Regions from separate parts of the Homo sapiens genome. Here region 2 is linked to region 1. A link means that fine-mapping ties the variant in region 1 to the expression of a gene that starts in the linked region. Tissue or cell type: whole blood. Region 1 holds a variant in brackets; the other region holds the start of a gene. Each region is shown on its reference strand, or each on the opposite one. Region 1 overlaps LINC-PINT (long intergenic non-protein coding RNA, p53 induced transcript). Region 2 holds the start of TET3 (tet methylcytosine dioxygenase 3).

Evidence for each region. PIP is the estimated chance that this variant, and not a neighbour inherited with it, causes the effect. A credible set is the group of variants that fine-mapping cannot tell apart.
Region 2: it holds the start of TET3, and the variant in region 1 is the best candidate, but not a certain one, in a credible set for the expression of TET3 in whole blood (TOPMed, PIP 0.52).

What each region holds. Positions count from the first base shown.
Region 1 is chr7:130,882,672-130,887,050 of GRCh38, forward strand. LINC-PINT (long intergenic non-protein coding RNA, p53 induced transcript) reads right to left here. Exons shown (of 8, transcript NR_170176.1): 7 at 1,646-1,725; 8 at 1-65. Among named protein-coding and RNA genes, the nearest start is that of MIR29B1, 7.3 kb to the left of the region's middle. RefSeq lists an enhancer at 3,806-4,379. The variant A/G (reference allele first, on the strand shown) is at 1,853.
Region 2 is chr2:73,983,002-73,987,380 of GRCh38, forward strand. It overlaps TET3 (tet methylcytosine dioxygenase 3), which reads left to right and starts at 1,909. Exons shown (of 12, transcript NM_001287491.2): 1 at 1,909-2,156; 2 at 2,979-3,705. The coding sequence starts at 3,403. RefSeq lists enhancers at 285-1,208, 3,102-3,331 and silencers at 1,382-2,071, 1,830-2,028, 2,452-2,621.

The DNA.
Region 1 (4,379 bases):
GTAAGTACATGAGTAAACCATGAAAGCCAGCTTTGGTCATGAGGAGTAGAAGTAGCACCAAATAGCTCACCAAGAGAAAGGGAGAAAAATTGGAAATTAGCACAATTTGGCTTGCACTGAATGGTCAGAAGACCTGGACCCTCCACCACACTTCTGACATGCAGTGTGACCTTAGGCCAGTCCCATCTTCTCTAAAGCTTCATTTTCCCACTAACCTTAAAGAAGTTCAAGTCAAAGAGCACAGTGATGAGTCCCACAGATCATGCTTGAGATGGTGACAGTGTTAAAATACTGACTCCAAAATACAGCCTGGCAGTTTATCTTCTCGAGTTTCCTGTTTCTATGACACTGTACGGTGAGATGGCCAAATGCAGACTCCAGAGCCAGAATGCCAAGCTCTGCCACCAGCTCCTCACACAACCCTGCACAAATCACTTTAACTCTCTGTGCCTCAGTCTCCTCATCTGTAAAATGAGGGTAATAGGCCGGGTGCGGTGGCTCACGCCTGTAATCCCAGCACTTTTGGAGGCTGTGATGGGCGGATCACGAGGTCAAGAGATTGAGATCATCCTGGCCAACATGGTGAAGTCTCGTCTCTATAAAAATACAAAAATTAGCTGGGCGTGGTGGCATGTGCCTGTAGTCCCAGCTACCTGGGAGGCTGAGGCAGGAGAATCACTTGAACCTGGGAGGCGGAGGTTGCAGCAGTGAGACGAAATCGCGCCACTGCACTCCAGCCTGGCGACAGAGTGAGACTCCGTCTCAAAAAAAAAAAAAGATGGTAATAACTGGACCTAGCACATAAGGTTGTTGTGAGGATTAAATCAGGTAAATATGATGAAGCCATCTGAACCAGTGTTAGCACAATGTAAATATTCAGTAAATGGTAGCTATGATAATAAAAGTAATACATTAGTTTTCAATAAGCACATTATAAACAGAGATGTGGCTAAGAGATCCACCACAGCTGGTAAATGGAGAGGGTGCAGAGATCCTGCTGTCACATGCTTTGCCATACATTGACATATTCTGGAGTAACTGACTGCAAAGCTGAAATGGCATCCCCAACTGAATTTACTGAAATTCATATATTTAATATTTTTGACTGCCTTCTCTTCTTCCCAGTCTAAGACCTGAATATGGGATCTATACCCTTGTTTTTAAGCAGGAGTTCATGTTATAGATTCTTCCTGACCGTAAACCGGGAGTTGGGTGGTTGAGAGAAAAAGAGTAGAGATCAAATACTAATGATCATTTAAAAAAACATATCAGGCTTGTCAGGCACGGTGGCTCACACCTGTAATCCCAGCACTTTGAGAGGCTGGGGCAGAGAATCACTTGGCCCAAGTTTGAAACCAGGGCAACACAGGGAGACTCTGCCTCTACAAAAGAAATTTTAAAAAACTAGCCAGGCGTGGGTGGTACACGCCTGTGGTCCCAGCTACTTGGGAGGCTGAGGTGGGAGGATCGCTTGAGCCTGGGAGGTTGAGGCCGCAGTGAGTTGTGATCACACCACTGTACTCCAGCCTGGGCAACAGAGCAAAACCCTACCTCAAAAAAGAAAAAGAAAAATGTACTGAGGAATCATCCAGGGACAAAATAAAACTCCCTTGAGGTTGACTTATAAGCAGAAGCCTCTACTTACGTAGGTGTAAAAGCAGTCTGTTAACAGATATTTTCCAGGCACAGAAATCCTCAGGAGGCATTTGTTCAGAAGACCTGCACCTGGAATTTAAATGACAGTATGAGCTCCTAGGAAATCTCCTGGAGTAACAGCAGAAGAAAAAGTCAGTTGTTTTCTCGTAAACATGTTTCTCCACCAGTGTCACCAACAGATGCATTTTTAAAAACA[A/G]GAAATAGAAAGCACCTTCTCTTTCCTGCTTAAGACACACAGGTTGGGAAAGTTCCTGTACAGTGAGCAACACATGCCCCCTCATGCTGGTGCTCTGTGCGGGAGAAAACGTGAGGTGTGGCCGTTGCTAAGGAAACCGCTGACACGAGGCAGAGCAGCAAGGTTTGCTCAGCAAGGTGTCTTAGGAAATAAAACACAGTCTAAGCCTATAGATCCCATCACAGAAGAAAGGCAGGCAAGGATCCCGCACAGGAGACGGTAGAAGGCTTCTATTTTCACAACTGATTCTGCAGCCTCGTGCTGTAGCAGTACAGGCTGCAGAAGGTTTGTGGAGGGGAGCGCCGGTCTGCAAGGACGGTCTGTGACGGCTTCAGAATCAGGTGGAGGGCAACTGAGAAGAATGGAAACCACCTCACATTCTCTCCTACCTGGTCTAACTTTACAGACGAAATGCATCTTTCAGCTGCATCACAAGAGAGGAAGCCAAGGTCGTAGGGTCTTCATTTCTGAAAACTGATTGTTCAAGTAAATCCTTCAGTCGTCCCCCTGATGCGACCTGCTAGGGAAGCTGGGAGTGCCTTCACAGTGGCTCCAAGGGGGTGTCCTTATAGGGGATTACATCTCAAGACACATTTTACCCAGCAAGAGGCTGCATGACTCAGCAGTCTGATGAAGAAAGCTCTGTTAAGTTACCACCAATTGCAATTTCTAAGTTAATGATTACAGCTCCACCGAGGAACCAGAACACAGCTGAGGCCACAGAGCATTCCCCGTGCTTACTGGCCAGTGGGGATGATGTTGCCCAGATGTGTGGGTCGGAGCTGAATGGTGAAGACAATGATTTGTGATTCGCAGGTGGACTCTTTAAGCCAGGTGCTACTGAACATGCTCTTCAGTGACTGGGAAGCTCTCAAGAAAGATGATATCACAACAGGAACAGATTATGTTGGGAAGATTCTTGAGAGTTGAGATTAAAATCCAAGAGGAGCTCGGCCAGTAAAATAAATGGTCAGAAAAAGCCATTTGATACTGTCCTACAACAGAAAATACATCTAAAAAATCAAGCTGAGAAGTACAGATGGGAAGGAAGAGGCAGTGGGGTAAAACAACAATCAAACCAACGTGAAGCTACCGAACACACAGAATTCTGGAATATTTAAACACTATCATAATAGCATGTTTCCAAAATTGTCTGATTATAAAAATGGGTATAGAAAACCAACGTCAGACAGGAGCTCTTTCATTTTTTTCTTTTTTTTTTTTTTTTTGTGAGATAGTCTCACTCTGTCACCCAGGCTGGAGTGCAGTGGCATGATCTTGACTCATTGTAACCTCCGCCTCCTGGGTTCGAGCGATTTTTTCTCATGCCTCAGCCTCCCAAGTAGCTGGAGTTTTAGGCGTGTGCCACTACACCCAGCTAATTTTTGTATTTTTAGTAGAGATGGGGTTTTGCCATGTTGGCCACGCTGGTCTTGACCTCCTGACCTCAGGTGATCCGCCCACCTCGGCCTCCCAAAGTGTTGGGATTATAGGTGTGAGCCACCGCGCCCAGCCCTCTTTCACTTTTCAACAGTAACTGAAGTCTGTGTCAGATTGTGAGGAACACCTGTCTGCTGCTTTCTGGAAGCTTTCAGTATTTGAAAAAGTGGCTAGGGAAGCTGCTGGGAAGTCCTTCAATTAACCTTAAAAAGCATGTAATAAAACCTAATTATAGAGCATGCTTCTTTCATCCTCTCTGTCACTCCTTTAGAGAATGTGGTGACTTTCTAAGCCACTGTCCCTGCAACCTCCTAGGATTTAGATGTATGAACATTATTTACAGATGGGAAAAACAGAGCACTGAAAGTTTTGGTCAAGAAAACCGTACGGGTTAGTGATGGGGTTTCTCAATTGTGAAGACCTGAGCTTGACAAATGCATTTTCAGCTTCCCAGGATACCCCTGGCTCCTCAGTGAGCACTGGAAGTTTGTCCCTTCTATAGCAGCCCTTGGCAGTTCCAGTCTAGGGGCAGAAGCCAGCCTGCCACTGCAGAGAAGAGCAGCAAGTTCCAGCCCAGCCGGCGAGCACGCTGCACTCATGGGCTTCCCAAGGCTCTGGCGGGAAGTCACGGGTCAAGTGAGGTCTTCTTAGGTGCTCAACAGTCACACTCTGGGGCCTGAAAGGTCTTAGAAGCTTATCTCTGTCAATCTCTGCTTAGAATCAAATCGATCAATCAATACCTTTTCCTTCTCTTTGCTTCTCCTACTGAGCCCCAGCATATTTGAGTGAAGGTACTTACATGTACGTAGCCTTTTAAAAGCCAAGTACTATCAAGTGAGCTCCCATTTCAAGGCACGTTTGAACTGGGAATAGAAAGACGGGCAGCTTAAGCTTTGGGATCATACAGACCCGGATTCAAATTTCACTTGTTACACAGCCTTGGCAAGCTATTCAATCCTTTTGGGGCTTTAGTTTTTTGTTTTTGTTTTGTTTTTTTAATTTATAAAGTAGAAATGATGTTAACTCTCAGAGTTGTTGTGAAAACACA
Region 2 (4,379 bases), not on the chromosome of region 1:
TTTACTTGGATTCCCTTGAAGATGGAGTACCTAGTCCAAGGTCACACTGTTACCAAGTGGCAGATTCAGGTTTGGAAGCCAGAGTTCTCTGGCTCCTGAGCCATCTTCTTCACCTCACTGTCACACTTTCTGAAAACTGTATACCAAACAGGGAAATGCCTATGGTACAATGTTAAGTTAAAAGAGGATGGCAAATTGTATAATCAGTGTGAGTAAATCCACAAATAGGAAAGGCTACAAGGAAATATAGCAAATGGTTAAATATGGTTGTAATTTGGTGATTTTTCCCCTCTAGTATCTGTAGTCTCCACGTCTTCTTTATACACATTTTTTATTAATAAAGTTGCTTATTAAAAATATATTACATTAAAAACAATTACGAGTCTGCAACCTGTTCCCCTGTTTGAAAATTGCACTCTCTTGGTTTTTCGTCTCGGTTCTAGTCTTACTACCCTGAACAGAAACTCTTCAGTCCTCCCAAAGGCCATGGTAGGAAGTGGATATTGCAGCCATGTTCACCCCCACCCACTCCCTCGCTGACAACCTGGACCCTGGAGCAGGCTGTCAAAATCAGAGGGAAGTTCCAGATAGAACCCGGGCTGCTTTACCGCCTAGGGCTTTCTGGACAGCGCTACTTCAGATCAGTTACTTTTTTTTCTTTCTTTCTAAATAGCCGGCCGAATGCTCTTTTTCCAGTTCTGGCTAAGCTGTTAGCTGCAGCCGGGCGGCGACGCCTGCCAGGTACCTGGCTCCGTGAGCACCGCCCAAACTGGTCAGGCCAGTCCGTCCTGTGGCTGTTTCTGCCAGGACTCGCCCGAGTGTGTGTGTGCGCGTGTATGTCAGAGACCCACCCTGCTCCCCTGCAACCGAGGTAGGTGGAAGGCAGTTGCAGGCACCAGCCTGGCAGTCAGGCCAGATGGGTGGGGCTGAATTAATCTAACCTGGAATTTCAACTTGGCCTGCACAACAGGTGAGGGAAAAAAGCAGCAGAGAGAACGGGCAGTTTGGCAACTTGGAAATATTCCTGAGCCCTGCCCCTTACCCCCTGCCTGGAACGTAGCCCAGGGTGACTCTTCAAAGTGTCTGCGCCGGGTTTTAGGGCTTAGTCGCCCCACGGCCCCCTCGAGGCTGTCCGAGGCCCTCCTGAACGCTGTCCTCCTCAGTTACCCTCCGCGACGCGCCCGTTCCCCCTCCTCTGGGAGGCAGGGCGGGGGTATCGGATTAGTCTTTGTTTTCGACGCGAAAGAATCGAGCGCGGCGCGGGGGAGGCTGGTGATGGCAGGGCCGTGGGGTCCACCTGGACAGGGCATTCGGCCGTGACCCCTGCGAGGGTGCCCTTAGCCTCTGCCCCCGAGCAACCCCTTCTTGCCGGCCAGGCTGACTCGGTACGCAAACGCGCGATGTCCCCCATTGTCCTGCCTCGGAATGAGCCAGCGGCAGCTGGGACAGGGGGGTCAGTCGGGCCCGGCGCTCAGGCCTCCCGGGGGCGCCGGGGCTGTCCCGGACAGATCTGGCCCGCAGGGAGTGGCAGGAAGTGGGGACACCGAGCGAGGCTCGGCCGAGGGCCTAGGCTGGAAGGTCCGCGTGCCCCACCCCGCCTCGCCGGCCCCGGCTGCAGCCCCGCCGGAGGGCGAGGGTGGCCAACCCGAAGGGGGCGGCCGCCTCCCGGGAGGGCCGACCGCGTGGGTGGGAGCCACTGCAGGTGCAGAGAAGCGGCGGCCGGGCCGGAGCCTGCCCCAAGCCGCTCGCAGGCCGCCCACCCGACCCCTCCCCTCCGCGGGAACCACCCCCCTCTCGCCCGGCCCGGGGCCCGGCCGGGCCGGCGGGGCTCGGCGGGGCCGCACGTGTGCGCCCTCCCGGGCGGGGGAGTCCCCGGGCGAGCACGTGCCGCGGTGCGCGGGGGGCGGGGAGTCCCGCGGACGCCTTCATTGCTGCTGCTGCTGCCGCCGCGGCCGCCGCTGCCTCTTCCTTCCTCCTGCGCCGTCCCCTCCTCGGCCCGGGCGGGGGGCTCCGCGCGCTGAGCTCGGTCGGGCCGGGCGCTCCGGGAGGCGGGAGCCCCAGGCGGCGGCGGCGGCGGCCGCGACGGTGGTGGCGGCGGCGGCGCGGGCCGGGAAACTTTGCCCCTTTGTGCGCTCCGCCCCGGAGGCGGCGGGCAGGTCGGTGCAGTCGGTGCCTTTCCGGCTCCGGAGTGGGGGAGGGGCGGCGGGAGGCGCGGGGGGCCCGGCCCGGGGGAGGGGGAGGGGACGGCCCGGATCCGGCGGGGGGCCGCTCCTCCGGTGCGGGGGGCCGGACTGGGGTGCTGCGGGGCGCTGTGCGGCTGAGCCGGGCGGGGGTGGCGGGGCGGGGGCGGGGGCTGCGAAGCCGCCGGAGCGGAGTGGCGGAGGCCCCAGAACAAAGGAGCCCGAGCGGCGGCGCGCGCGCGGCCCGGCCCGCGGCTCGAGCGCGCCCCCCTCCCCGCGCCCCTCGGCGGCGCGGGCCGCCCTCCCCAGTCGGGCTGGCGGGCTGCGCTCCGGCGGCGGGCGCGGCGGGCGCGGGCTGCCCAGGGCGCGCCCCCACCTCCAGGCGGCTTCCGTGCCGGGGGCGCCGGGGCAGTCCCGCCGAGCGAGGCTCTCAGCAAACTTTATTTTGAAAGCTCAGCTCCCTAGGGAGGGCCCGGCGGCCTCCAGCCAGGGCGTGTGGGGGAATTTTGGTGAAACTCTCACCAGCCCGTGGGGGTGGGGAAGAGGGCAACTTTCTTAGAAATCTCACCTTGATCACCCCCTTGAATCCAGGGCCCCCAGCAGCCCTCAGGCCCGAGGCCGCCTCCCTCAGACAGGGAGCGGGTGCTGGGTGCGTCCTGCCTGAGGTTCTGGGCAGGACCTCAATTGAGCAAGCCCCATCTCTTCCCCCATTTTCTCTTCCCAGAAACAGGAAGAAGTGACACGTGAAAGTTGTCCCTGAGCCCCGAGTGATGCGCTTCCCCTTTCTGTCTTTTTCAGGCAGCACTGCCTTCTCCAGCGTCCAGACCCTGGAGGAAAAATACCAGGAGAAACTGCTCACTCAGCTCTGCCCCCACCACACCCCTACCTGCTCAACTCATGCCTGGGTCCAGGGTGGGTGAGGGTGAAGAACCCACCGGGCCAAGATGATCCCTTTTCTGAGGGCTGCTGCTGGTGTCCTCCCCCAGATCCTGGGCCCCAGCAGGTGGGAGAGTGGCCCCCTACGGAGTCCGATCAGACTGCTGCAGAGGAGGTGAAGAGGGGTTGAGAAGAGGCATCCATCCACGAGACTGAAGCCACTTGCCTTCACCCTTGTAGACTCTTGACTGTTCTAGGCGAGAAGGACCTGTTGGTGGCCTTTGGAGGTGGCAGGAAACGACTGTGGTTCTGCCCCAGCACCTATGACCCCACCTCTGGCAGCATCATGAGCCAGTTTCAGGTGCCCCTGGCCGTCCAGCCGGACCTGCCAGGCCTTTATGACTTCCCTCAGCGCCAGGTGATGGTAGGGAGCTTCCCGGGGTCTGGGCTCTCCATGGCTGGGAGTGAGTCCCAACTCCGAGGGGGTGGAGATGGTCGAAAGAAACGGAAACGGTGTGGTACTTGTGAGCCCTGCCGGCGGCTGGAAAACTGTGGCGCTTGCACTAGCTGTACCAACCGCCGCACGCACCAGATCTGCAAACTGCGAAAATGTGAGGTGCTGAAGAAAAAAGTAGGGCTTCTCAAGGAGGTAAGCCGGCCCTTGCTGGGCTACCCTGTTCCTTCCTCGAGGGCACGGTGATCACGGGGGTCTTGTTCAAGCAAGGCTCGTCCAGTTGAGTCCATTCTCTCATTTCTGATCCTCTTGGTCCAACTTTAAGTAGGAGTGTAACTGACATGTTTGGACTCCTTTGCAGGGCTGACAATTTGTATGAGTAACTGGGTAGAAGGGGGATCTGAGCTAGCACCCTCATCTCTGATGTTTGCATTTGAGGCGGGACTGTGATGTCTACCTTTACCTCTAGAAGTTTCTTGTCCTGCTGCTTGAAGCCTCAGATGTTGTATTTCAAGCTCATGCTAATGCTTGGATGACTTGGTCAGTGAGGGTGTAAGATAAGAGATGGAGGCTGATGGATTTGGAGACAAAGTTTTGGATTGACAGGGTGGTTTTATGATGCCCTGATGGAGTGGGATGTTTCTTTCATCGTTTTTCTCAGATGGCCAGAGAGCCAGTTGAAACTGTTGGGGAATCTAGTGACGAACTGATGTTTTGGGTTCCCCTATCTTAGTTCTTCTTGCGGTCAAAAACTTTATTTCTGTGTTCTCGGGACCTGGCACAATTCCTTGGCAGGTAGTAGGCACTCAGATACTAATTGCATGAATGGATGACATGCTTTTGAGACACTGTCAACCCCAGGGAGGTGT